Linked DNA regions of Homo sapiens: regions 1, 2, 3, 5 and 6 are each linked to region 4. Evidence: fine-mapped expression QTL. A gene starts in region 4. Each other region holds a variant in brackets. All regions are shown on one strand. Distances are between the middles of the regions. Region 1 overlaps USP10 (ubiquitin specific peptidase 10). Region 2 overlaps CRISPLD2 (cysteine rich secretory protein LCCL domain containing 2). Region 3 overlaps USP10 (ubiquitin specific peptidase 10). Region 4 holds the start of USP10 (ubiquitin specific peptidase 10). Region 5 has its middle 15 kb from the start of CRISPLD2. Region 6 overlaps USP10 (ubiquitin specific peptidase 10).

Region 1 (5,234 bases), 63 kb before region 4:
CCGCAAGGCCTCAGAAAGGAAATTAGGCTCCAATGAGGCCTCTTCAGTACTTTCGATGGGTAAACCTTCTTGGAGATGGTACAAGTTTTGCTGAATTCCACATCACAGTGGTACTGAAAAGCTCTCAGGTAAATAAAGAAAAACCTTTCCGAAGGACTTTGTGAATGAGCAAAAAGCTGCTTAAGGGAACTGGCACACAGCCAGGTGCCCAGGGACTCCAGCCCAGTCACGGGTCTGTCTGTGTAAAAAAGACCTCCCTTCACACTCTCTTCACTTTCTACCTCACCTGCTTCCAATCAGTTCACAACAGCCAAGACAGGGAAACAACTGTCTGTGGATGGGCCAATGGATAAAGAAACTGTGGTGTGTATATATAGACAAGGGAACACTATTCAGCTGTAATAAAGACCCTGCCATTTGCCACAACAGGAATGAACCTGGGGAACATTATACTAAGTTAAAGAAGTCAGACACAGAAAGAAAAATATTGCATGGTCTCACTTATACATGGAATCTTTATTAAAAAAAAAAAAAAGACGAAACTACAGAGATAGGGAAAAGAGTGGTTCCTAGGGGTGGCGAGTGGGAATGGAAGATGTCGGTCGAAGGACACCAAGGGCAGCCACACAGGCGAACAGGTCTAGAGATCTGATGTGGAACATCGGACAAGAGCTACTCATAGTGCACTGTATTTGGGACTTTTGTGAAATGAGTAAAACTGCAGCTGCTCTTGCCATGTGCACACACACACACACAAGGGTAACTGTGATGGGGAATATGTTTATCTGCTTCACTGTAGCAACTATTTTACTATCTCTATTTCATAACATCTGTGTATACTTTAAATATACACAATTTATTAACATAAATAAAATTCCTCCAGATACACTGTCTTCTCTTACCAAAACACATGGTTTGGTTAGCTGGTTTTTTTTTTTGAAGACAGTCTTGCTCTGTCACCCAGGCTGGAGTGCAGTGGTGTAATCTTGGCTCACTGCAACCTCTGCCTCCCGGAGGTGGTTTTATGTTGCAAGTTTTAAATGCAGATGAAGTCTAATATATATATATATATTTTTTTTTCTCTCTCTCTCGTGGTTATTGTTTATGACCTATCTTATGAAACCTTTGCCTACCCCTAAGTCATGATGACATTCTCCTGTATCTTTTTCTTTTTTTTTTCTTGAGACAGAGTCTCACTCTGTCACCCATGCTGGAGTGCAATGGCGCTATCTGGGCCACTGCAACCTCTGCCTCCTGGGTTCAAGCGATTCTCCTGCCTCAGCCTCCCTAATAGCTGGGATTACAGGTGCCTGTCACCACACCTGGTTGATTTTTGTATTTTTAGTAGAGACGGGGTTTCACCATGTTGATCAGGTTGATCTCGAACTTCTAACCTCAGGTGATCCACCCGCCTTGGCCTCCCAAAGTCCTGGGATTACAGGCATGAACCACCGCGTATGGCCAATTAGCTGGCTTTTCTCTTACTCCCTAGCAGTGAGCAGCTGAACTTGACAGAGTAGAAGGGAGGAGCTCCCTGTCCCCTGCAGACATGCGCCAGCAGGGAGAGAATAAGCCACGGGGGCTGACAAGGGAAGCATCAGGAAGTGCAAGAGAAGAGCAGGCAGGGGAGCAAGATGCAAACCATTACGTCCAAGAAGTCTCAAAACAAGCCTCACACCTTCCCCCTTCACCAACATGGCAAAACCCTAGAAAAGGCAAATATTAAGTTATTCCAGAAAAGCACAAACCTGATGTGTCCACCAAAAATGCCGGTGATTGGAGTCTGAACAAAATCCGCCTGGCGGGTGACGGAAGTCTTGTTCCGGGGGCCCACTTGTTCCCATTCATCCTCGCTTCCTTCACCTTGTTCTTCCTGCTCTTCTTCATTGACCGAGTGGTTTTTGGGGCCGTTGGAAATCGTAAGTTCTGAAAAGGAGAGCATCTGCTTACACTACTATTTACGACAAGAACAGCAAAAAA[A/T]AAAAAGGCACAGATCTGTCGATTGCAGTTTTAAAAATGAAATCAGGGTGTGGTCTACATTAGGAGCCACGGCAACCAATCGCAACAGGAGCAACGTCACTGGATCCACGGCCAATCGCAACAGGCACAATGTCACTGGATCCACGGCAACCAATCGCAACAGGTGCAACGTCACTGGATCCATGGCAACCAATCCCAACAGGCACAACGTCACTGGATCCACGGCAACCAATCGCAACAGGTGCAACGTCACTGGATCCACGGCAACCAATCACAACAGGCGCAATGCCACTGGATCCACTGCAACCCATTGCAATGCCACTTGATCCACGGCAACCAATCGCAACAGGTGCACCACCACTGGATCCTTGTTTACATAAACTCCTAGAAATGACATCCCTGGGACAACTGGCGAAATTTGAAGATGCTCTGCAAAGTCGGTATTACCGTGTCATTACAGTTGTTTTTCTCAGTTAGATAAGGGACTGTGGTTACGCAGGAGATGCTTTAGCACCTGAGATGAACTAAACTGTTAGCTGCAACTTAACTTTGAATCATTCAGGGAAAATGTATGCGTATGTATGTATATATGGATGGACAGATAAGACATATATATATATACACAGTGTGTGTATAGCATCAGAAAATATGTTTAAAACTGTACACTCGGCAATTATAAAGGTATTCATCAAACGATTCTTTCAGCTTTTTTATAGGCTTGATCATTTTCCTAATTAAAAGTTAAAGGAAAATGGCAGAGGTTCGGGATAAACTGTAATTTACCTAAATATAACCTTCTCGATGGTGTAAGTTATCGTAGGGAATAAATGCTATTTGAAAGGAAAACGACTGAGGGGCAGGGAAGCAACATAACATATGAGTATGCAACACCTGTTTACAGCGAACTCTTGCACAACTCTGCGGCAAGTGGACCATAACCTACTTTCATTACTTGGTGAGAGAAGCTTCTTTAGGTTCAACATTTCCTCATGAAGTCCATTTAGAATGAAGCCTAAGTATTCCTCAGCATCTTCTTGTCGACCCTGAAAAGGTCAAATATAATCACGTTACTGTGAACTGATCACTGTCAAAGGCCTGCAGGACATGCAGTACTTGCAAAGTCCAACCATGCCTCCTCTGAAATGGAAGATGTAAAGTATTTCCAAACAATGACATGATGACATGGGTTTCCCTTGCATAGCTGAAATCCCAAGAGTAGGAGGAAAAGGAGAAACTGACTAAACACATATCTCTAAATGGGTGGACTAATGGGGATTTTTATTATTTATACTTTCTGTATTTTTGAAATTTTCTTCAATAAATATACTTTTTTTTTTTTTTGAGACAAAGTCTCATTCCGTCACCCAGGCTGGAGTGCAGTGGTGCAATCTCAGCTCAGTGCAACCTCCAGCTCCCGGGTTCAAGCGATTCTCCTGCCTCAGCCTCCCGAGTAGCTGGGACTCCAGGTGTGTGCCACCATGCCTGGCTAATCTTTGTATTTTTAGTAGAGACGGGGTTTCACCATGTCGGCCAGGCTGGTCTCAAACTCCTGACCTCAGGTGACCTGCCTGCCTTGGCTTCCCAAAGTGCTGGGATTACAGGCATGAGCCACCACACCTGGCCACATTACCTTTATCACAAAAAAGTTATTTAAAAAAAAGTTTCTGTCTTGGGTAAACAAAATAGAAGACGAAGAACTAGATGTCTAGGGCCAGTTCACTGTTCAACTGCAAGGGTCACCACTCGAGCAATGAGCTAAGCAGCCCTATGTCTGCTTCTGTCTGTCTTTGATGATGGACAACTACATGGGAAAGAACTCAAACTACATGTGGAAAAACTCCACTGATTTAGAGCGTTAGCTGTGTTACACATACATCAGCAAAATCATTCACAGACGAGTCACCCAAGAGTTTAATAATCCCACATCACGAGTGTTTGATTCTGTTACTTATCATCAGTTCATATTTCATTCTTCACAGCACAACTGCCTATTCCAAGGCCCTGCAAATTGTTCTGTTTGAAGCATCTAGGTAAACTGCAAAGTTTACTTGCCCTCTCCAGATAGTAGACGTGGACAGCAGCTGTTCACGTGAGTGCATGCTCTGCACGTGTGCAGAAAAGGGCAAAAACTGGCACAGCCAAAGTGTGCTGAAGACTTTTCATAGCAGGCCTGGGTGGCTCTCCTTGGAAAGGCCTGCTTGCAAGGTTGCCCCTTGGCTGGTGTCTGGGAATTTGGATTTCAGAAAGGTTCCCATCGGTCCAATAACTGATACGGGATTCTGCCTAAACCGTTTGCGCAAGCAATGTGCTTTCTGCTGAACACTTTGCTTTTGTTTTGGGAGTTTGGACTTTTGGTTCAAGCCAGGCAGATGGTACCTATGGGACCAGCCCTCAGTAAAAACTCTGGACACGGAGTCTGTAATGACCTTCCCTGGTTGGCAGCATTTCACGTGTGGTCACAGTCTGGTGCTGGAGTAGTTACGCGTAGCCTTGTGGCCCCACTGGGAGAGGAGTCTGGAAGTTTCCTTTAGGCCCTGCCTCACCTGTCCTTTCCCTTCCTGACTCTGCTCCGCATGCTTTTGCTGTCAGCAACCATAGCCACGGGTATACCAGCTTCTGCATTTTCTGAGTTCTTCCAGTGAATCACCCAACCTCAGGGTGGTCTTGGGGAGCCCAACACATCCCCTATTAATGTAACCTTTAGAAGATGCTTTTGTTCATAGCATTATCTCTGTGCACGATCCAAGAGGGGTTCCTGAGCACCCACTTTATTTTGCCTCCACCTGTGCTAGGTGGGCCCCTCTGGGTTCTAAGGCATCTCTGTATCTTTGTGCTTCTCTTGTTGACTATTCATTAACTCATTCCCTCACTGAGGGCAGAGGGCGCACTTCATTCCATTTCTGCATCCCTAACACCATGTTCCCATTACTTGGGAAGTGCAAATTCCAAGCCAATACCAAAAGCTGCATTATAAGCATTTAAAAAGCTTAAGACCCTATGCTACCCCTGGTGGTATCCTGCAACGATGCCCTCGACATTCACTCTTCTTCAAAGCAATGAAGCTTCAAGTAAACTTGACTTAAATGGCATTTTCTCAACTATTTTTCTCTCTGAATACATTTCCCTAAGCATCATTTCAACTGCTTGTACTGATTCATCACAAACTCAATCTGGGAGGAAAGAAATGCTCCAGTTAACGGTGCTAAGGGCGGCCCAAGTCACTCTCAACAGCCCCAGGGCCTTTTATAAGGGCT
Region 2 (4,000 bases), 210 kb before region 4:
CCTGCACAATCTTAACTTACTCAACATTTTAAAATGGACATTTTAAAAGCCTGGTATTTCTTAAAGAGGAAAGCTATCCCCATCACGCATGGAAAAGGACCGCACTAGAGATGAGCCTGAGAGGAAGGCAGGCGCCTTCACCGGGGAGAGGAAAGGCCGGCCCCGTGCCCCCAAATTGCTCTGGGGCTTTGGTGCATTGAGGCACTCAGCGAGATGTGACTGCGCTTGGTGAAAAGGGGCTGCTTTGGGCTGATGCCTGGGAAGAAGGTGACCGTTACGAACTAAATTTCCCACCCTGAACACATAGGGTTTTCTTTGTTTGTTTTGTTTTTGAGATAAAGTCTCACTGTATTGCCCAGGCTGGAGTGCAGTGGCGCGATCTCGGCTCACCACAACCTCCTCCTCCTGGGTTCAAGCCATTCTCCTGCCTCAGCTTCCCAAGTAGCTGGGATTACAGGCGTGCACCACCACGCCTGGCTAATTTTTGTATTTGTAGTAGAGATGGGGTTTCACCATATTGGCCAGGCTGGTCTCGAACGCCTGACCTCAAGCAATTCACCCACCTCGGCCTCCCAAAGTGCTGAGATTACAGACACGAGCCACTGTGCCCGGCCCACAGGGCTTTGAAATGATTCCAGACACCTCCACAGGTTGCTACGTGGGTGACGCGTTTTGCTGCGCTAAGAACTTGGTGTGCCCCTTCTTCCCTGGAGAATGTGGCCTCACCCCTTATCGGACCCCGTCTGCGAGCTCCTGACCCTCACGACTGGACTTCCATACACATGCAAACCTGCCAGTGGGACGGACCCTTTGGGAGCTCTGGCTGTGGCCGGCTGCACCCTCGGCATCTTCTCCCAAAGCTGGGAGCTCCAGCTGTGACAGGTCACCCCGCCAGCCTTGGAGCTACTCTCAGAAGCCTCTGGCCAGCGCTGGAACTGCCTTCTAGGGACCTTACAGCGCTTCCAAGAACGGCTGGTAGAAGGTGCACCTCAAACTGAGGCCTGCTTCCATCCTAAGTGAGCAAGTAGGCCTTGATCATTCTGGAACTGACCCACTGTGGGGTTAATGGGCTTCGTCTGTCGAGTGTATTCTCTGTGAGGTTTGGTCTCATTCTCTCCCTGTTTAAGCACTGGGAACCTAAGGAAAAAACATCTTTGTGTAGCAATAAACTGTGTGATTTGTGAAATCGTACTTTGATCATTTCCTTATTGTAACCACACAAAACGATCCCTAACCCCCAATGTATTTCTTTCGTGTGTGTGTGTGTGTGTGTGTGTGTGTGTGTCTCGCTCTGTCACTCAGGCTGGAGTGCAGTGGTGTCATCTTGGCTCTCTGCAACCTCTGCCTCCCAGGGTCAAGCAATTCTCCTGCCTCAGCCTCCCAAGTAGCTGGGACTACATGCATGCGCCACCATGCCCGGCAAATTTTTGTATTTTTTTTGTAGAGATAAGGTTTCCCCATGTTGCCCAGACTGCTCTTGAACTCTTGGACTCAAGTGATCCTCCTGCCTCAGCTTCCCAAAGTGCTGGGATTACAGGCATGAGCCAGCCTGTGTATTTCAAGGTAGGGCCTTTAAGGAGGTAATTCAGGTTAAATGGGTCCTAAGGGTGGGGCCCAGACCCAATATGACCGGTGTCCTTATAAGAGAGAGAGAGAGACACCAGGAGTGTACATGCCCAGAGGAAAGGCCATGTGAGGACACGGCCAGGGGCAGCCACCTGCAAACCAAAGAGAGGCCGCAGAGGAAACCAACGCTGCTGGCACCCTGATCTTAGACTT[C/T]CAGCCTCCAGAACTGTGAGGAAGATATCTCTGTGGGTTAAGTCACCCAGTCTATGGTATTTTGTTAGGGCAGCCGGAGCTTAGACAGAATGGCCTTGAGCCCACCACCACTCAGAGTGTGATCTGGGGACTGGCAGCATTCGCATCACCAGGATCTTGGGAGAAATTCACAGTCCCTGGCCCCAACCCAGCCTTGCTGAGCCCGAAATTGCATTTTGGCAAGCTCCTCCCTCCTTCCCGCGGATGGGGTGGAGGTCTCCACCAGGCCCTGGCTGTCAGCATCTCTGTGTATATGAGACATCCTAGCAGAAGCAGCCAACACAAAACAGTCCAGAGCCTGAAAGATGGTTTTCAATGTTTTATTTCACAAATTGTTCAGATTTGTTCATAAAAGATATGTTACAGGAACATTTTAGAAATCAAACCAGTTCTACTGAAACAATTGCAACAACGTGGCCCCTGTTCATGCAAAGCACAAAAAACATTTACAATAAAACTTTGTACACAGGAAGTAGCAAAATACATCATTTTTCATAGAAAAAAGCACACACATAAACTGCGGGCTGAGTGAGCCTACAGACAATATGAGAAACCAGCACACGCTTTGGAATACGGTAGGGCAAAACTCCTAAGGAAGCCGAAAATGTTCATCCTGTGGGCAGGAGAGCCAGGAACGCCGTTGGCTTGGTACAAGATCTTTTTAAACACAGGGTAAGTGTTGGTAGCACGAGGGGCCTCTATTCCACACACAGGAGAGGTGGTGCTAGGGACAGGGCTTATCATTTATAGTCTTGTTTCCATTTTCTGAAGACAAATATTCCAGTTTCAAAATGTTTGTGGGGATGATAAAGACAGCCAGGTCCATGGCCGGGCGCAGTGGCTCATGCCTGTAATCCCAGCACTTCGGGAGGCCAAGGTGGGTGGATCACCTGAGGTAAGGAGTTCGAGACCAGCCTGGCCAACATAATGAAACCCCATCTCTACTAAAAATACAAAAATTAGCCGGGCATGGTAGCTCACGCCTGTAGTCCCAGGTACTTGGGAGGCTGATGCATGAGAATTGCTTGAACCCGGGAGGCGGCAGTTGCAATGAGCAGAGATCACGCCACTGCACTCTACCTTGGGCAACAGAGTGAAACTTGGTCTCGGGAAAAAAAAAAAAAAAAAAAAAAAGACAGCCAGGTCCTGCTCTGGGCAAGGACTTTCTATCCTGCTAGGAAGGCCCAGTGAAGGAGGCATTAAGGAACCCGGGGACTTTATTTTTAAATGATGGGGTCAACTCACACTGGAAGTTTCAAGTCTCCCTTGAGTGGGATGCTTTGGAAGCGAGCCCACTGGGATCGTCCTGGACCCTTCACTAATTCTGCAAACCCCACAGGGCGATCTAATTTATCTTGCAGACACAGACACAGCCACAAAAGTCCAGCAGCAGAGCACCCAGCACCCAGAAGTTTCCCAGATGTTTGGTGGTAACTGGACTCACGACCTGACAGGCTGACCGAATTCTTCCTCTCCGACATTTGGGGCTGAGGAGTCAGTACCTATGAATTACGACTAGACTACAATGCACAAAGCACGTAGTCCTGTGAATTTTAGCTCAGTCAAGCTAAGAGTTGAACTGCTTTTTACCAACTCCTTAAAGGGGTGGGTTTTTGTTTTGTTTTAAACCTATTTACCTTCAGATTCTGCATTTATTAGAAAGGCAATCAAAGAAAGAAGGCATCACCTAGGTGCCCAGGTAGAATTTCTTGTCCAGTCTACAGTATCTTAGTTTTTGACTTTCTGCTAGTTCTTTCACCTAAGAAATATTTTGAATCAAATTTGAAACTAGCATTCACCAAAGTGATCTATTGGCTGGCCCGGTGGTAGAGAGTGGAATTTTCACCTTCTGCAAAAAAATGCTATTTACAAAAGGGTACTTCATTTCACTGTGGGCTTTTGGTCTGGGCTCATGAAGCACTTTTATAGAGTGATGGCAGCCAGGGTGTACTACACTCCTTGGCGCCTCGGGAACGTTTGGCAAGAGTCGTTTCACGAAAACAGGAAAAGAGATCCTTCTAGTGTATTCCCATCTCTCGCTGTCATGAGGCCACAGACGGTTTCATAACCACAAACTGAGCTGCTAACCTCGGTGAGGAATGTACCAAAGACTCCATTCCTCCCACGGCTGAAAAAATAGGTCATCGGGTGCGTGGGGAATCTGCACATTTAATTGTCATTT
Region 3 (4,408 bases), 68 kb before region 4:
CAACCTCCACCTCCAGGGTTCAAGTGATTCAGCCTCCTGAGAGGCTGGGACTACATGTGCACACCACCATGCCCAGTTAATTTTTGTATTTTTAGTAGAGATGGGGTTTCAACATGTTGGCCAGGATGGTCTCGATCTCTTGACTTTGTGATCCGCCTGCCTCAGCCTCCGAAAATGCTGGGATTACAGGCATCAGCCACTGGAGATTTTTTTTTTTTTTTTTTGGGGACGGAGTCTCGCTCTGTCGCCCAGGCCGGACTGCAGTGGCGCTATCTCGGCTCACTGCAAGCTCCGCCTCCCAGGTTCACGCCATTCTCCTGCCTCAGCCTCCTGAGTAGCTGGGATTACAGGCGCCTGCCACCATGCCCGGCTAACTTTTTGTATTTTTAGTAGAGACGGGGTTTCACCGTGTTAGCCAGGATGGTCTCGATCTCCTGACCTCGTGATCCACCCGCCTTGGCCTCCCAAAGTGCTGGGATTACAGGTGTGAGCCACCTCGCCCAGCCAACTGAGGCTTAATTTCTAATCACTCAACAAAGGCAGACATTTTCTATATAGCAAATATTTCATATAATCCTATTTTCCCCAAAACCTTCACATGTTCCCACAGAAAAATACTTCTGATCTAAAACATAATAAAGTTAAAGGTGGCATTTTAAAAACTTAAAAAAAAACACATTCAAGAAAATATGTAATTTGCTCCTTATAGATACTTCCATACAAGCTGTCCCAAATCTTCCTGAAACATCTGCTGTTGAAAGTGGTCCTGGCCTCATCTGGTAACACACCACCACAACCACGCACCCAGAACGGCTGGCAGCATCCTTTTTATCTTCCGGAGTCCACCAAAATGCCAGCTTTCCTTTATTTTTATTTCTTCTTATGTTTTAGAGACACGGTTTCACTATCGCACAGGCTGGAGTGCAGTGGCGTGATCATAGCTCACTGCAGCCTCCAACTGTTGGGCTCAGGCAATCCTCCTGCCTCAGCCTCCCAAAGTGCTGGGACTAAGGGCGTGAGCCACCACACCTGGCCCGCCTTCTTTCTGGAAGCCTTCATCCAAACCTGCTATTTAGGATAAACCATTCTTTCTTCACTACCGTCTAACAACAGGCTAACAACTACCTGCGCCTCAACCCCTGCCCCCACACCGCCACCCCTACCAGCCCACCCCAGCAAAGTCAAACTGTAATTGCAGCAGAAGCAAAAGAGAAAAACAGACACATCACAAAAGGGTCTTCCCTAGGCAGCCCATGGAAAGGCTGACCACCTCCCCAACAGCATGGGTGGCCAAAGACTCCCATAGCTGGCTCAAGAAACAGCATAAGCAGAGTGCACCAGCAGCCAGGGCCAGGGAGCTATCTCTGGAGTTGCAGCTGCCACAGAAGTGAGCCAAGCCGACAGTCACCCACAATGCACAACTGAACCACCCAACCAACCTCCCCAACACAAATACCACTTTTTCCCTCTCTCTCTTCCACGAGGTCCACCGCCAGACTCTTCTTAGCTCATTCACTGAAGTCAACTACCAAGTTTCTGCCTCTGGCTCCTACTGCTTCTATTTTTTAAACAAAATCACCCATGAGATGCAAGTCTGCAAATACGGTAGAAGATTAGGCATAACTTCTACTGATCCCCCCAGAGCCTGGGTGAACCAGTCCACAGCAGGACACCCCGAAGGTGCTAAGGGTCCCTATGTCCTACTTTGCTCTTTCTGACTCAGAGCACACAAGATAAGCCAAGGATAGATCCATCCCAGTCATGCAATGTGATGACAGGTCTTCTACGTTGGGGCACCTTATTTTACCTTGTAGCTGCCATCCACTGCCCATTATTCAAATATCGCTTTGCAGGAATGCTATGGACCGTCCATAATTATCAGCCTGCATTCATCTCCCCAGTGCATTTTTATGAATTCACTGCCACAACCTAAGATATATAACAGAGAAGACACTCTCTGCTGCAGAGTACAAAATAGCTATAAGCTGGCACATCTGGACAGCCAGGAACTAATAAGCTCTCACAGGGCAGAATGCTATCCGTCTCGCCCAACTGAGTTGACAAGGACTCCACCAAGCTATAATGTGATACTCTTAAATTCATGAAGACTGAAAGACTCAAGAATCTTACCTTTTCCAGATCAAATCAAAGAGTAACAAGCATCAGAACAATGACTATATTATATTTACAATGACTATATTATATTTACAATGACCTGGAAGATCTACAATCAAATGCAAAACAGATGTGTCTGGAATCTCTCTGACATCCTAACTAATCTAATGACAGTTGTACCCTACGGTATCATGAACATAAATAAGCTATTTGGCCTCTGTCAGAGGTAGTATTGATGTTGTGATATCATCATTAGATTGCCAGAAAATTAAATGTAGCTCAAGATAAACAATCCAAAAGGAGATCATTACCTTG[T/C]GTAATATGATTTAGAGCTAAAAGAGGCCCTTGGGATCACGTTTCAACCATTTCATTGTAAAACCATAAAAACTTTCAGTACAAAATGGTTAAGCAACTGATTTAAGAGGCATAACTCAAACCCATTTCCCCTCATTCCTAATTTTGTGTTCTTTCCACCAAACCAGAGCACCTTAGTAGAAAGGTTCAAAATCAAGTGTGAACATACCTCTTGTTTGGTTTTTGTGGTATAACCTTGGACAGATTCTCTTGCCACCAAGCTCTCCAGTGCATCCTGGACTGTGCGTATCTTGTCTGACTGGATATCCAACTGCAACGTGAAAAATGGCTGCAAAGTGGCAGATTCTTTTGAACTCTGCTGGTAAACCACAGACCTAAGAATTGAAAGCAAAAACAAAAAAATTAAGAGACCACTCCTTGCCACTTTCCCTTAAGATTAACCAAGGGAATAAACACTGAAAATAAGATTATTCAATATCACTTTCAAAAGACCACAGAGAAAAGCCAAAAATATACTGAATTTAAAAATAATTCTGCTGAAGATGTGCTTTGTTAAACAGATGCTTGAAGGCAGCATGCTCGTTAAGAGTCATCACCAATCCCTGATCTCAAGTAATCAGGGACACAAACACTGCGGAAGGCCGCAGGGTCCTCTGCCTAGGAAAACCAGAGACCTTTGTTCACTTGTTTGTCTGCTGACCTTCCCTCCACTATTGTCCCATGACCCTGCCAAATCCCCCTCTGTGAGAAACACCCAAGAATTATCAATAAAAAAATAAATTAAAAAAAATAATAATAATTCTGCTGAATAGCACCTCCTTAGTATTTCTAACAACTAAATCTACCAGTTGATAAATGTTCCCAACGCCAGTGCTCTGGAAGAAAACATATTTCATTTTCCAAATTCTTTCACTTCCTCTCCACACTGTTATTTACTGCACCGGTTCATAAAGGCAGCCACCCTGCCATGGCCTCAAAACGCTGCTGCTTTCCATTTTCTCCAAGTATCATAGCCTGTTCTAATAAAATAGAGGAAATCCCAAGGTAAATAGAGGATTTTTAATGGCATTTTCCTCCTATAAAGATGTCTTACAAAAAGAAGAAGGGGAGTAGGGTGTGTAGAATAAAAAACAAGTTAACATTCCAGGAAAAAAGGCTGCCACCCTTCCAAGAAGGGCGCCAATTTGACCTTGTTTTCTTAGCTGGTTTTTCATTTCATTTTTTTTTTCCTTTTTCTAAGTTTTTCTGAGTAAAAATTGTGTGTTCGGCCCATCTCTCATTTAGCCTCAGCAAGGAAACATTCCAGGGGTTCAACAAGGGCTTCTATTTCTGCAGTCTCGGTGACCTAGTTTCTCAACGGAATAAAATGGGTGTGGACAGGTACTCAGGCTTTCCAGAACAGATGCGGTGAAGAGCTCGCTAAAAGCTTTTCTGTCCAGGGTTTAATTACGCATCTCCATGCTCCTTTACAGTTTGAAGACTTCAGTGACAACAGTTCCCCTGGTTCTGGAGAGGGATACAGTAGTGGGGAAACCGCTCATGAGAGCTGGTGGAGAATCAAGAAGCCCTCTTGATTCAGTGGTCCTGTGTTTTAGCAAAGGTGGCACCGGGGAAGAAAGGCGGGGAAGTCTTCCTGGGGAAACTGAAAAACATCTGAAGAGGCTGAGTTTTAGAAGTAAATCTTTCAATTGGTGTGAATAAAGAATCATGCTTAACAATGGCTGAAAAGAAGTTCCTACGTTGTAAGAATTCCCTATCTTTGCTTTACCGTTTTTCAAAAAGAAACATCAACAACCAATTTCAACACAGAGACCCCTCAGAGGATGTGGCTAGCAGCTGTGACAGAGCTGTTCAATCTGAGCCAGCAAGTCCTCCAAATGGACGCTGGTATTTTCCACTGGTTACTCTTAGACAAATTTGGGATCTTTGAGTATGCTGACCCTCTGTGGCCTTGAAATTCTGATACCCGGCCTCTGCA
Region 4 (4,000 bases):
CTTGTTTGCATTACTATTCTTTTAAAATGAAAATTATGAGAAATCGGCCAGGCGCAGTAGTGGCTCACGCCTATAATCCCAGCACTTTGAGAGGCCGAGGCGGGTGGATCACCTGAGCTCAGGAGTTTGAGACCAGCCTGATCAACATGGTGAAACCCGTCTTTAATAAAAATACAAAAAATTAGCCAGGCATGGTGGTGGGCGCCTGTAATCCCAGCTACTTGGGAGGCTGAGGCAGGAGAATCGCTTGAACCCGGGAGGCAGAGGTTGCAGTGGGCCGAGATCATGCCACTGCACTCCAGCCTGGGCGACAGAGCAAGACTCCCGTCTCAAAAAAAAAAAAAAAAAAAAAAAAAAAAGAGCGAAACTCCATCTCAAAATAAATAAAAAAGTTTATAGGTTAATAACCACAGCACTCCAGCCTGGGCAACAAGAGCCAAATTCCAACTCAAAAAAAAAAAAAAAAAGAAGAAGAAAATTATGAGAAATCAAACTATTTCCTTTGCTACTTTCTCCATGCTAAAACTTAAAAGCATTTAAATCATACTTTAAAAGAATAAACCCAAAGTGTTGCTAACATTTACGTTCCGCCAACTTTTGCTACTCCAATTTTCTAAAGATGTGTATAACGCTTTAGACTGTTGTATAAAACGTAAATACTGGGACAATGAATGCAAACGAAATTACAATTAAGTTTACATATTATCCATCCCCATTAATTAACATTTCAATCAACCTTGAATTGTGATTGATGCTTATTAAATAAAGGAAGTGAGCTATGCCTAAAGATGCTTTCTTCATGTCAAAATCACAAGGAATATTACACATTAATTCATAATGAGCCTTTTACTTGTTCATACCAATTCTAATAAGCTAGTTAATTAGGATTTAAGTTGAGAAAAAAGCAAATATCAAATCTTTTTTTTTAACAGAAAGGTCTAAACAAAGCTAAATACACCAAATCTCTTAAAATCTTTGGGCTATACATTTGTAAAAATTATTCAACTACTGATCCCTTTTTTGGCGCAAAGACCTACACTACTTACAAAAGTAAATGAATAAGGGAACAAAACGTTAAAGGGGGAAATTCTGATGCAAACTAAACTACAGCTAATTTAACAAAATTGAAGCTTGTCGTAAGATCTAATTTTTTAAAAAGTTTTCGCATTTTAGATTCCACAACACGCATTCATTACAATAGTTCCGAAAATCATGTTTCAAAAGAGGTGTAGTCAGATTGACTTCATCTGCAGAAGGGCAACAAAACCCAATTGCTCATGAAGGGTTATGATTTTACTCGCAATCAGTTTCCCGAATGGCTACTTTGTTTCATTTCCCCATATTTAATACAAATACACAATGAGATGGTTTAAAAGTGTGCAACAATTTATAGGGACCAGATGTCAACAAATTAGCAGTCTAAAGCAAGGCTGACAAATAATACATCATGCCGATTTTTGTCCAGAATAATTATAATGGCGGAGGGGGGAGAAGATGTGAGAGAAGGGGTGGGAGAGGGGAATAAGAGCTTAACTCTACACGCACATCTCCCAAAAAGAGCTCTTTCTTTCCACCACGGGATTATTGTAAAGGGCCCCCAAGCTTTAGCTACTGTTCAGGCAGGGTGCGTTAGTTGTCAGCCTGGCTGGGATGGATTCGTGCAAGGGATGTCACTCAAACGCAAGTGAAAGTACGGTCCTTGCGACTTATTTCGAGTTTTCTTTGCAACAGCAGCCCAAGGCCGCTACTCTGCTACTTCTATCTAAAAAACAGAAAATCGGCAACCCCCGCATCATCAATCAAGCTGAGAAAGGAAGCTCTTGGGGCAAAGGGGCAACAGGGCACCCCCAAATCTCTGAGGCTCGCTCCAGGCAGAGGCAGCAACCTGAGCTGCTCTGGGGCCCCTGCGCTCCAGGGGACTCCCGGAGCCCCCGGGCCGCCTCCCCCGGCCGGCGCGGCGGGGAGGGCCCCACTCCACACCCCGGGCTCGCCCCGCGGTCCAGCCCCAGGGAGGTTAACCCCTTCGGCGCCCTCCACGCCCTCCCCAAGCGGGGCCCGGAGCCCCCGCCCTTCGACCTCCCCGGGACTAGGGGGTCCGGGTGGCTCAGGGGACGAAGGCGCGGCGGGCGCGGAGGCGGCGGGTGGCTCCGGCCTAGGCCCGGGCAGCGTGTCCCAGCGCCCTCCCCCACTCCCACACGCTCGCTCCGGGCAGGGCGCGGACGCCCGCCCGCCGCGGCGTCCGCCCGCCCGGGGCTCGGGCCCCTTCCGGCCGAAGGCGCAGACCGGCGGCTACCTGCGGGCTGTGGAGGGCCATGGCTGCCCGTTTCATTGGGACTCCGCGATCCTCCGGCTGCTCACGCTGCTTCCCCCGCCGCCGCCATCTTCTCGCCCGCACATACACACTCGCATCGGCCGCCGCGCCTGCGCACTGGCCGCGCGCCGCGGGGCGCGGGGAGGCCGGCCCGCTGCTGCGCCTGCGCGGCCGACAGGTGGGCGTGCGCCTGCCGGGCCGCGGACATCCCCTGCCCCGCCTGGAGCCTGCCGGACTCTGAGCCCCGCGACCCTCGGGCGGAAGCGGCCGGGCGGCTGCACACCAGGAGCCCGCCGAGGCCTGGCTGTGGATCCGGAAGGGGAGAGGGCAGGCAGGTAGAGGTGGCAACGCCAAGGCGCCGGCGGGCCCGGCTCCTCACCTACTGGGGGCCACCTGGGCCCCCGGAGCCCGGGAGTCGCGGGCTGAGGTCGGCCTGGGGCCCACGAGCCGCCCTCAGCGTACCTGGGCCCGGGCCTCGGGAGTGTTCGCATTAGATCCCCGAGGAGGGTCTGGTTTATGAAGATCCCGTTGCCGCGCATTCATTCATTTGTTCACTCTTCATTCACTCCCCAAGTCCTGCCTGGGCGCCTGGGCCACGCCTTTGGCTAGGCATTAGGGGAAAAAAGCAAAACAGACAAAAACAAAACGTAGGGCATAAAAGCACGCGTAAAGTGCTTGACATGAGGCCTGGCAAGTAGCAAACACTCAGCAAGTGCTACGTGTTGCACACGTGCGTGCGTGTGCACGGGCAAACCAGCCTTGGGGGTCGTTGGTTCATTCATTATTAAGAAACAGGGGCCCCTGCCTAACTGCACTGTTTTCCAGCCAGTGGGTCCACCCTTGGGTTTTGGCCCCTTTTCTAGCTGTGATTTCAGACAAGCGACTTTCCTTCCCTAAGCCTTGGTTTCCTCACCTGTGAATAAGACAAATATGTCATAACGCGTAAGATTTCTGTGAGGTTCAAATTAGATTAACGTGAGCACACTGGCCAAGAGAATAGTCAATAAAAATTGGCTACTGGGATTGTTATTAATAACCATTACTATTGGTTTCATTTATTCAACAAACACCTACAGAGAGTCTGCTCTTGCTAGACCGTACACTGAGCAGAGGAGATGAACAGGAAGATCCATTCCCACGTTACATAAAATAGGGAGCCTGGTCTCTTCATAAATGGGATGCCATGAAAAATATAAGTGGGCCAGGCGCAGCGGCTCACACCCGGAATCCCACACATTGGGAGGCCGAGGCGGGCGGATCACTTGAAGTCAGGAGTTGGAGACCAGCCTGGCTAATATGATGAAACCCCAACTCTACTAAAAATACAAAAATTGGTGGGATGTAGTGTGGCACACCAGGCGTCCCAGCTACTCAGGAGGCTGAGGTGGGAGGATCACTTGAACCCCGGAGACGGAGGTTGCGGTGAGCCGAGATCGTGCCACTGCACTCCAGCCTGGGTGACAGAGCGAGTCTCTGTCTCAAAAAAAAAAAAAGAAAGAAAGAAAGAAAGAAAAGAAAAGAAAAATATAAGTGGTAGGGAGGGGTTGTTCCAAAATAGAAGAGCTAGAAAACATAACCAAATACAATGTGTCATCTTGCTTGGATCCTGATATGTCTTTTAAGCTGGTTTTACTATTTGTTGACAATTGGAGACATTTGAATATGGATTGGATATGGGTGATCTTCGTG
Region 5 (5,234 bases), 100 kb before region 4:
CTTCTTATGAAGACATCAGGCACTAGATTAGGGCCCATCCTAGTTGAGTGTGACATCATCTTAATGTGATTACATCTGCAGAGACCCTAGTTCCATATAAGGTCCCATTCTGAGGTCCCAGGTGGACATGGATTTTTGGGAAACGCGATTGGACCCAGCATTCATTGTAACGGGGCCTCTGCAGACGTGATTCTGCTAAGGGTGGTGACATGGGAAGAGCGGCCTGAATTCTCCTGTGGCCCCCACGGAATCACAAGCCTCCCTTGTAAGAGGGAGGCCAGAGGGTCAGCGTCAGAAGAGAAGGTGCTGTGATGATGGAAGCCGAGGTTGGAGTGATGCACTCTGAGGATGGACGAAGGGGCCATGAGCCCAGGAGTACAGGCAGCCTCTAGAAGCTGGAAAAGTCAAGGAGACGATTCTCCCCTGGAGGTTCCAGGAGCAACCAGCCCCGCCCACACCTTGACTTTAGCCCAGTGATGCCGATCTCAGACTTCTGACCTCCAGAACCGTAAGATGGGATACTTAAGCTGTTTCCAGCCGCCAACCTTGTGGTCACTTGTTACCGCAGCCATGGGAAACCAGATGCATCCATGAAGAGCTGTGTCTGTGACACGGCGTCGGCAGGGCTGCAGAACCGGGCTCCTGCGCCGCCCTTCCAGGGGAAACAGCCATGAATGAGCCCTCAGGCAGCCAACTGTTTCCCTGCAGAGCACCCGGGCCCGGCAGGCAGCCGGCTCCCAGACCACACACACTCCGCACAGTCCTGAGTCATCTGGCCTGAAGGTGCTTCCCTAGAGCCTCTTTACCGGAAATGGCCTGCGTTCGACCTGATTATTTTTCTAGCAATCGATGAACACTTCCCAGATGCAAAATTGGATAGCGGCCAGTTCCAGGCTGTGCATGGCCCAGGACGACCAATGCAAGAGCCTCCGGGGGGTTCTCTAGCCCGAGTGGTGTCACTGCATTCCCACTGTCCCCGAGCACCCACGGCATCACCGCCACCATCAGGGGAGCCTGAAGTGCCTGCAGAAGCTCTGGCCAGGCCCAGGGGGTGGACAGGAAGTCCAGTCATCCTCGGCATCCTGTGAACCGCTGCTTCTTGCATTTTTAATCTCGGCGGGTCCCACTTGCGTGTCTGAAAATGCAACTGCCTTATTTTCCCTAACAGGGCAGTTGAGGGGTGGGGTAGTACTTAACCTTGACAACAGGACATCTCTTGGTTTCTTTTTTTTTTTTTCTGAGTCGGAGCCTCACTCTGTCACCCAGACTGGAGTGCAGTGGTGCAATCTCAGCTCACTGCAACCTCCGCCTTCGGGGCTCAAGTGATTCTCCTGCCTCAGCCTCCCCAGTATTTGGGATTACAGGCATGTGCCACCATGCCCGGCTAATTTTTGTATTTTTAGTAGAGACGGGGTTTTATCATGTTGGCCAGACTGGTTTCAAACCCCTGATGTCAAGCGATCTGCCTGCCTCAGACTCCCGAAGTACTGGGATTACAGGCTTGTACCACCATGCCTGGCTAATTTTTGTATTTTTAGTAGAGATGGGGTTTCACCGTGTTGGCCAGGCTGGTTTCAAACTCCTGACCTCAAGTGATCCGCCTGCCTCTGCCTCCCAAAGTGCTGCTTACAGGTGTGAGCCACCATGCTCAGCCTCAGTCTCTCTATATCATCTCTGTTAATTTGCAGTGGTCTCTGCAGCAACTAGCCCACCCATGTGCACTCAGAGCCACTCAGGGCCCTCGCTCTTTCCCTCCTTCCTCTCCTCTCCCCCTAGATGAGTGGGAAGGAAGTTTAGGGACTTCACGGTTTTGCAGAGAGGCAAAGACGGAGCCCACCCACCGATCTTTTTACATGACAGGAGCCGTGATTAATTTCCCGGGGATGTCCTAATAAACTGCTGCAAACTGGGTGGCTAGCAATAGAGATGTGTTCTCTCCCGGTTCCGGAGGCCAGCGGTCTGAAATCAAAGCGTCTGCAGAGTGGAGAGAGGGAAGATCCTTCCTGCCTCTTCCAGCTTCCAGGGGCCCCAGGTGTTCCTTGGCTTGTGGCCGCATCACTCCCATCGCTGCCTCTGTCCTCGCGTAGCCTTCTTCTCTTCTTATACGGACATTCATGGTTGCACTTAGGGCACACATGGTCATCCAGGATGGCCTCATCTCAAGACCTTCTATTGATTACAGCAAAGATACTTTTTCTTTCTTTTTTTTTTTTTTTTTTTGAGACAGAGTCTCACTCTGTTGCCCAGGCTGGAGTGCGGTGGCCTGATCTCGGCTCACTGCAACCTCCGCCTCCCAGGTTCAAGTGATTCTCCTGCCTCAGCCTCCCGAATAGCTGGGACTA[C/T]GGGCGTGCGCCACCACGCCCAGCTAATTTTTGTATTTTTAGTAGAGGCGGGGTTTCACCATGTTGGCCAGGATGATCTCAATCTCTTGACCTTGTGGTCCACTCACTTCGGCCTCCCAAAGGGCTGGGATTACAGGCGTGAGCCATCGCAGCCAGCCTATTTATTTATTTATTTATTTATTTTAGATGTGGTCTCGCTCCATCACCCAGGTTGGAGTGCGGTGGTGTGATCTCGGGTCACTGCAACCTCCGCCTCCTGGGTTCAAGCGATTCTCGTGCCTCAGCCTCCCGAGTAGCTGGGATTACAAATGTGCACCACCAAGTCCGGCTAACTTTTGTATTTTTAGTAGAGGTGGGGTTTCACCATGTTGGCCAGGCTGATCTCGAACTCCTGACCTCAGATGATTCACCTGTGTCGGCCTCTCAAAGTGCTGGGATTACAGGCATGAACCACCGTGCCCAGCCAGATTCTTTTTCCAAATAAGGTCACATTCACGGGTTCTGGGCATCAGGGCTTGGATATATCATTCTGGGGGCCACCAGTTAACCCACTCCAGCAAGCTTGGACATACCGGGCCACATCGGCCTACAGGGCTTGGGGAGTCACCCAGGCTGGGGCTGCTCCACTGTGCACGAGGGCTGTCCTCCACCTTGCACTGGAGGGAGCTGCCTCGTAACACGTTCGCTCTCAGCCTCCTCCTTAATCTGCCTCCTCCCTTGACTCCAGGGTCCCGACCAGGGGCAGAAGCTCTTTTTCACCTGTCCGCTCACCTTGCTGGAGCTGGGAGGGAGGATTTTCCACCTTCTTATGTTTGGGGTGTTCCTTCCATGAGGCACTGGGTTTTCCATCCCCTCTGGCTGATAATAAGTTTGAAGTTCAATAGGCCTGACCTTTTTTTTTCTTTTAAATTTCTCACTGACTTTGTTGTTTTTTTGTTTTTGTTTTTCTTTTTGTTTTTGTTTTGAGACGGAGTCTCGCTCTGTCACCCAGGCTGGAGTGCAGTGGTGCAATCTTGGCTCACTGCAAGCTCCGCCTCCTGGGTCCACGCCATTCTCCTGCCTCAGCCTCCGGAGTAGCTGGGACTACAGGCGCCCGCCACCATGCCCGGCTAATTTTTTTGTATTTTTAGTAGAGACAGGGTTTCACCGTGTTAGCCAGGATGGTCTCGATCTACTGACCTCATGATCCGCCTGCTTCGGCCTCCCAAAGTGCTGGGATTACAGGCGTGAGCCACCGCGCCTGGCCCTTTTTTCACTGACTTTGTAAAACAATCGTTTTTTTAAAAAAAACTTTTAATTTCCAGGGTACATGTGCAGGATGTGCAGGTTTGTTACTTAGGTAAACGTGTGTCACGAGGGTTTGTTGTACAGACTATTTCGTCACTCAGGTATTAAGCCCAGTATCCATGAGTTCTTCTTCCTGATCCCCTCCCCGCTCCCACCCTCCACCCTCCGACAGGCCCCAGTGGGTGGTGTTCCCTTCTATGCGTCCATGTCTTCTCATCGTTTAACTCCCACTTATCAGTGAGAACGTGCGGTATTTGGTTTTCGGTTCCTGCGTGAGTTTGCCAAGGACCACGGGCCTGACTCTTGATGCAAAAGGGGTGCAAAGGATGTGGGCAACCCCGTTCCCCTCTTCATTCCTTCCCAGGGCTCTGGTCTCACTGAGAACTCTAAAAGCTAAACAAGTTGCTTTCCTGCTGAGGTTCTGCTAAGCTTTCCTAGTCCCCCGAGGCAGGTAGGGGCTCCAGCTGAGGAGGAAAAAGGTCGGCTAGCCAGAAATTCAAATGACGGAAAGACATCCCTGTGTTCTAAGAAATAGGATCCCCTGACGTCCACCGACCTGGGCAATGTCACCAATAGGAGGCCTCAGAAGCACTTTTAACATCAACCTTACAGGGGGTGGGGTTTATACACAAGCACGTGTACCCATTTAAGTGGACAGCTGGATGAGGAACAGATGTCTATACCCGCCCAACTACCACCATGATACAGAATGTTCCCATCACGCCCATCTGCGTCCCACCTCCCCCAGCAACCATGGATCTGCTTTCTGTTGCTTTGCTGTAGACTTGCTTGCCTGTTCAAGAATATTCTGTAACTGGAAGCATACGGCATGGTCGAGGACTCCTTTTTTTTTTTTTTTTTTTTGAGATAGGGTCTCGCCCTGTTACCCAGGCTGGAGTGCAGTGGCGTGATCTCAGCTCACTGCAACTTCCGCCTCCCAGATTCAAGCGATTCTCCTGCCCCAGCCTCCTGAGTAGCTGGGACTACAGGCAAGTGCCACCACGCCCGGCTCATTTTTGTATTTTTAGTAGAGATGGGGTTTCACCATGTTGGTCAGGCTGGTCTCGAACTCCTGACCTCGTGAACCACCCACCTCGGCCTCCCAAAGTGCTGGAATTACAGGCACGAGCCACCACGCCCAGCCAGTCGAGGATTCTTGACTCCTCTCTTCCCTTCCTGCTCCCCTGAAACTCGTCCCACACCTGGTCCACTTGACGCAGGTAGAAGCCACATCAGTCCCTCCTTTCTCCTGCAGCCCATCCGCCATTTTGGTTGGGGGCTCTGGACTCACCCTATGGGGAGGCGCTGTGGCCCAGTGGCCAGCTGCCCACCTCCTGGGTTTGGATCCTAGCCCACCATTTCCTCACTTGAGACGCTGGGCATGTTCCTCAGGCTCTCCAGGGCTCAGCTTTCCTCATCTGGGGAATGGGGCTGAGAACATCAACCTCCGTGCTTCAGGAGCAAACAACAACACTAAAAGTTCTGGCTGGGTGCGGTGGCTCACACCTATAATCCCAGCACTTTGGGAGTCCGAGGCAGGCAGATCATCTGAGGTCAGGAGTTCGAGACCAGCCTGGCCAACATGGTGAAACTCCGTCTCTACTA
Region 6 (5,234 bases), 47 kb before region 4:
TAATTTCACTTCTGATGGCATAAAAACTAGCTGGCATTTATTAAGCAGACTTAACAATAGGGGAAATAGTCCAGAAATGTGAGTATTTGAAACAAACTTGAGATAAAAAATACACAAATTATTCCAAGCATTTTGTGTGTGTATAATTTTTTTTTTTTTTAAAGATGGGGTCTCAGTATGTTGCCCAGGCTGGCCTCGAACTCCCGGGCTCAAGTTATCGAGCCTCAAGCCTCAATCTCCACACTATCATGCCTGGCAGAAAGGAATACATTTAATGTCTAAATCATTCCCTACTCCCTCTTTCCCAAAAGTTAATAACACAAATACCACTGTCTCAGTAGAAACAGTTAGATACTAATGCAAGTCAAACTCTATTATAACCCACATCAACAGATCTTTTAATGAAACTAGACTTTCACTCAGTTAAACGCTGCTTAAAATAAGTGGGCCTACACTTAAAAGTGTGCCCACTAAAGGGAATTTGTGGTAGTGGATCTGACTTGTAACAAACTGAGTATGTTTTACCACTTTTATAAAGTAAATCCCTAAGTAGGAGAATAAAACAACAAAAAAAATTTCAAACAATGCCATTCTCCCTAAGCCCTATATGATCCCAAGGGTTATTCAATGTGACTCTATTGCTCTACTATCTCACGAGACTCCTGAAACTGTCAACAACTACGTTCTGTCTATCGAAGCCTCAACAAACAGGCTGAAAAGAATTATATATTTTTAAAGAAACTACACTTTTGCTCAGAAAATTAAAACATCTTCATAACTGACCTAACCAAATAGGATTAAAAAAATAATCTGTTTGGTAGGGGTTTACAATATGTCCACACAAAAATAATTACGTGGACTGTGTGTGGCAAGGCTTTCCTCTACTACCAGTCATTAAGAGGCCCTTACTTTCAGTGTTTGACAAAGCTACTTCAATTAGACTTTAACATATACAGAACATAACAAACTATTTATCAAACTATATTTAAAGTCATATGACTAAGTAGAATGTTCTAAAACATTTTAAATGAAGCTTTTCTTGGTTATTTTAAATAAAGATAGAGAAAATCTCCCTAAGATGGGAGGTTTTCCTTTGTGGAGCAATTTTAGAAACGAAACTATAATATTCTCAGCTGGGCGCGGTGGCTCACGCCTGTAATCTCAGCACTTTGAGAGGCTGAGGCAGGAGGATCACTTGAGGTCAGGAGCTCAAGACCAGCCTGGCCAACATGGTGAAACTCGGTCTCTACTAAAAATACAAAAATTAGCCTGGCGTGGTGCCAGGCACCTGTAGTCCCAGCTACTAGGGAGGCTGAGGCAGGAGAATTGCCTGAACCCAGGAGGAGAAGGTTGCAGTGAGCCGAGATTGCGCCACTGCATTCCGGCCTGGGCGACAGAGTGAGACCCCCTCTCAAAAATAAAGAAAAGAAAATAAAATTCTCATGACTTCGAACTTAGAATGCACATTTTTAACAGGACCCCACCATGCATTTCTCATTATAGGTTAAAAATAAACTTTTAACTTAGTAATCTATATAAAGGCTTACACAATCTATCTTTTTTTTTTTTTTTTTTTTTTTTGAGATGGAGTCTGGCTCTGTCGCCCAGGCTGGAGTGCACTGGCGCCATCTCGGCTCACTGCAAGCTCCGCCTCCCAGGTTCACGCCATTCTCCTGTCTCAGCCTCCTGAGTAGCTGGGACTACAGGCGCCCGCCACCACGCCTGGCTGATTTTTAGGTTTTTTTTAGTAGAGACGGGGTTTCACCGTGTTAGCCAGGATGGTCTCGATCTCCTGACCTTGTCATCCACCTACAGTATCAGTCCTTGCAATAAATACATTCTGAAAGCTGTATTCAAGAAATCGCCTGGCCTGAGTGCGGTGGCCCACACCTGGAATCCCAACACTTTGGGAGGCTGAAGCGAGCAGATCACTTGAGGTCAGGAGTTTGAGGCCAGCCTGGGCAGCATGGTGAAACCCCATTTCTACTAAAAATACAAAAAAAGATAGCCAGACATTGTGGCATGTGCCTGTAATCCCAGCTACTTGGGAGGCCGAGGCAGGAGAATCACTTGAACCCAGGAGGCGGAGGTTGTAGTGAGCCAAGATCGTGCCTCCTGCACTACAGCCTGAGCAACAGAGTGAGACTGCATCTCAAAAAAAAAAAAAAAAAAAAAAAAAATCACCTGGCTTTAAAAAATATATATGAAGCCCAAAATAACGACGTCTGGCCTATCATTTGCTCATTTAAGAGAACTTCAGAACAACAAGAGTACCTGAGATAATGTATTTTGTATAAGGAATAAAATACTCTTAAAAATATATATACATTGCTTGCTATCACCCTATTGCCACCCAAAGAATGTGTTTTATTTTTTACACAATTCTGACCATCCATCGAAGGGTGTGCATTTGGCAGCTTGCTGCTACATCCTGGTAATGAAGGGTGTCAGGTGTTCCAAAAGGTCACATCAGAAAGTATTACAGAAAGCCTAAACCAAACAGCTTATTTTAACTTGGCTACTAGGGTGACAATCTGAAGATCTGGTCACCAGGCTTGGTGGAATCCAACCTGA[T/C]GACACAGCTTCTGCTTCTTAGGTACGTACAGTCACGCGCGGCGTAACATTTCGGTCAACAATGAGCCGCACGTATGATGGTCCCACAAGATTCTAGTGGAACTGAAACGTCCTGCCGCCTAGTGGCGTCTTGATGCTCCTGACCCTGTGCAGGCCCAGGCTAATGTTTGTGTCTTACTTTTTAAGTTTAAAAAGTTAAAAACAATTTTTAATATGAAAAAGCTTATAGGAAAGTAAGAATAAAAAGGAAGAAAATATTTTTGTATAGCTGTAGTGTGTGTTTTAAGCTAAATGTTCTCATGAAAGAGTCAAAAAGTTTAGAATTTTTAATTTAAAAGTAAAATAAAACGTAAAAAAGTTACAGTAGGTTAAGGTTAATTTCTTATTGAGGAAAAATTTGTAAATCAACGTAGTACAGCCTAAGTGTTGACTGTTTATAAAACTCGGCTTTGCTCAGTACTGTCCTGGGCCTTCACATTCACTCAGCACTCATCACTGACCCATCCAGAGCCACTCCAGTCTTGCAAGCTCCATTCACGGTGAGTGCTCTATACAGGTGAAGCACTTTTCATCCTTTATACCATATCTGTACTATATTTTTTCTATGTCTAAATGTGTTCAGGCACACAAATACTTAGCACTGTGTTACAACTGCCTACAGTATTCAGTAGTAACACGCTGGACAGGTTTGCAGCCCGGGAGTAATAGGCTGCACCACCAGCCTAAGGCTCTACCACCTGTATTTGTGTAGTACTCTCTGATGTTAACACGCACATCTCGGAACACATATCCATCTTAGTTAAGCAACACGTGGCTATGTGAGGACACATACCTCTTTCATACCCTGCTGCATTTCTGACTTCCTACTGTAACTTTTTAAAAACAATCTGTGAATTATGCAGCTTTCTATTTTTATTGTGAATTGTTTCTACTTTGGAGCCTTAGCACTCTAAAATAAAACATTAACTTTGGGCTGAACCCTTAACATTTTTTTTCTCTTCAAGAGCTGACCTTGGTGTATCAAAATTCTGAATAAAATCCATTTACTCAATCCAAAAAAAAAAAACCATGTTATTTCACAAAATGATTTCTTGTATCTTAAGAAATATAAAAAAGGAGCACACAGTGAGTACAAATCAGGATTATCATACCAAAGGTATATCACAGAAAAAGTCCATTATACATTCATACCGTGGAGCAGAATTACTTGAACAAAAGGCAAGAAATGGAAATGTAACTTGTCAACAGAAAAGAACTGCTAACAGACATGGATCTTTCACTTAACATAAAGTTACGACAACCCTCTCCTCCCATTTGTTTCTATATTATCTTACTTTTAGAGAACATTTAAGACATAGGCATCCTTCAGACGTTGCTATTAACACACAGGTAATCTGCCATTGTTATGGGTAACACCACAGTCTATAAGCCCAGTTGATGAGGTCTGCTCCCATCTTCACTCTAGATTTGTATCTTTTCAACTATACCTGCAATCTTTATGGCTACAGGATCCTCTGAAACCGGAACAAGCCCTTCTTTGACTTCAACCTGCTTTTCAGAAACCAGGGGAGATATGGCGGGAGGGGAATACTTAGTTTCCACATAGGCCACCGGCGAGGAGGAAGAGGGCTTAGAATCATGAAAGAGGCTGGCCCAGGACTTGGGCTGGCTGACAGGAAGGGTGCCTGATGCAGAGCCCGTGCCGTCAGCAGGAGGTGATGCACTCTCGGGTTTGGTTGGGTCCAAGTCTATGCTTTCCGTGGTGTGCAACTCCACCCCGTTGGTAGCTGTGCCCTCACCCGAGGATTCAAGTATTTGTCCATTAGCAACTCCAAGGTTTTCAGTAGTATCGGTACCAACGCAGGGCTGAGCCCCAGCTGTCCTTGACAGGGTGTCTCTGCCAGCCTCTGCAGGGAAGCAGGACTGACCAAAATCAGCCCCGGGGCCCCCCTCTGGCTGCCCTGCAGTCCTGGTGTCACTGCCGAGTGCTCCGGGGAAAGGACTGTCAGGCACAATGTCACTGACAGAGTCTGTGGAGTTCTGGGGGCTGTTACAAGTCCTGGGCGTAACTGACGGGGGCATGTCACCCATAAATTCTGCATCCTCTGCACTGACACTGTTCGGGACTGCTGAATTGGCATGGCCATTGACCAGGGCTTCTGTGGAGATACTATCATCGCCACCATCTTTCAAATAGCTGTAATATCCAGGTGGCCGCTTTTTCTTCTTTTTACGCTCCCTTTGTCCAAGACCACCTGAGACACCATCATTTTCCAAAACTTCCGCCTCCACATTAGAACTTCCATCCAAAGCGAGGGCAGAGCCTGGGTACTGGCAGTCGATGGAGCCATAGCTTGCTTCTTTAGTGATACCATCAGGGGTTATTTTGGAAGCTGTACAACCGAGAATAAATTCAGGGGCCTGAGGGTTCAGTGTGCTTGAAATACTGTAGCTGGGGGTTCTCGGCAAAGTGTCACTGGGTTCAATGACTTCATCGACACCAAACTCAATTCTCTGATATTCTTGTCCTGTTTAGAAAGAAAACTATTAGTTAAGAACCCAGTTCTACAAACTCTAAGTACCAGTAATTACTCACTTTCTCTTTGAAAATAAAAACCTTAAGTTCTCTTCCTAATCAACAAATCTATTACGTCCTTTAC

The links. PIP is the estimated chance that this variant, and not a neighbour inherited with it, causes the effect.
Region 1: its variant is fine-mapped to the expression of USP10 in whole blood (TOPMed, PIP above 0.99).
Region 2: its variant is fine-mapped to the expression of USP10 in whole blood (TOPMed, PIP 0.90).
Region 3: its variant is fine-mapped to the expression of USP10 in whole blood (TOPMed, PIP above 0.99).
Region 5: its variant is fine-mapped to the expression of USP10 in whole blood (INTERVAL, PIP above 0.99).
Region 6: its variant is fine-mapped to the expression of USP10 in whole blood (TOPMed, PIP 0.93).

The regions. Positions count from the first base shown.
Region 1 is chr16:84,760,778-84,766,011 of GRCh38, reverse strand. It overlaps USP10 (ubiquitin specific peptidase 10), which reads right to left. Exons shown (of 14, transcript NM_005153.3): 9 at 2,924-3,023; 10 at 1,749-1,926. Among named protein-coding and RNA genes, the nearest start is that of CRISPLD2, 57 kb to the left of the region's middle. RefSeq lists a silencer at 4,795-5,089. The variant A/T (reference allele first, on the strand shown) is at 1,981.
Region 2 is chr16:84,907,633-84,911,632 of GRCh38, reverse strand. CRISPLD2 (cysteine rich secretory protein LCCL domain containing 2) reads right to left here. Exons shown (of 15, transcript NM_031476.4): 15 at 2,125-4,000. Among named protein-coding and RNA genes, the nearest start is that of LINC02176, 18 kb to the left of the region's middle. RefSeq lists a silencer at 1,363-1,478. The variant C/T (reference allele first, on the strand shown) is at 1,780.
Region 3 is chr16:84,766,589-84,770,996 of GRCh38, reverse strand. USP10 (ubiquitin specific peptidase 10) reads right to left here. Exons shown (of 14, transcript NM_005153.3): 11 at 2,639-2,804. Among named protein-coding and RNA genes, the nearest start is that of CRISPLD2, 51 kb to the left of the region's middle. The variant T/C (reference allele first, on the strand shown) is at 2,431.
Region 4 is chr16:84,698,405-84,702,404 of GRCh38, reverse strand. It overlaps USP10 (ubiquitin specific peptidase 10), which reads right to left and starts at 2,405. Exons shown (of 14, transcript NM_005153.3): 1 at 2,294-2,405. The coding sequence starts at 2,314. RefSeq lists silencers at 1,834-1,943, 1,984-2,093, 2,104-2,323, 2,414-2,933.
Region 5 is chr16:84,802,264-84,807,497 of GRCh38, reverse strand. No RefSeq gene overlaps it. Among named protein-coding and RNA genes, the nearest start is that of CRISPLD2, 15 kb to the left of the region's middle. RefSeq lists enhancers at 327-903, 904-1,482, 2,650-3,150 and a silencer at 743-942. The variant C/T (reference allele first, on the strand shown) is at 2,343.
Region 6 is chr16:84,744,501-84,749,734 of GRCh38, reverse strand. USP10 (ubiquitin specific peptidase 10) reads right to left here. Exons shown (of 14, transcript NM_005153.3): 4 at 4,062-5,102. Among named protein-coding and RNA genes, the nearest start is that of USP10, 47 kb to the right of the region's middle. The variant T/C (reference allele first, on the strand shown) is at 2,575.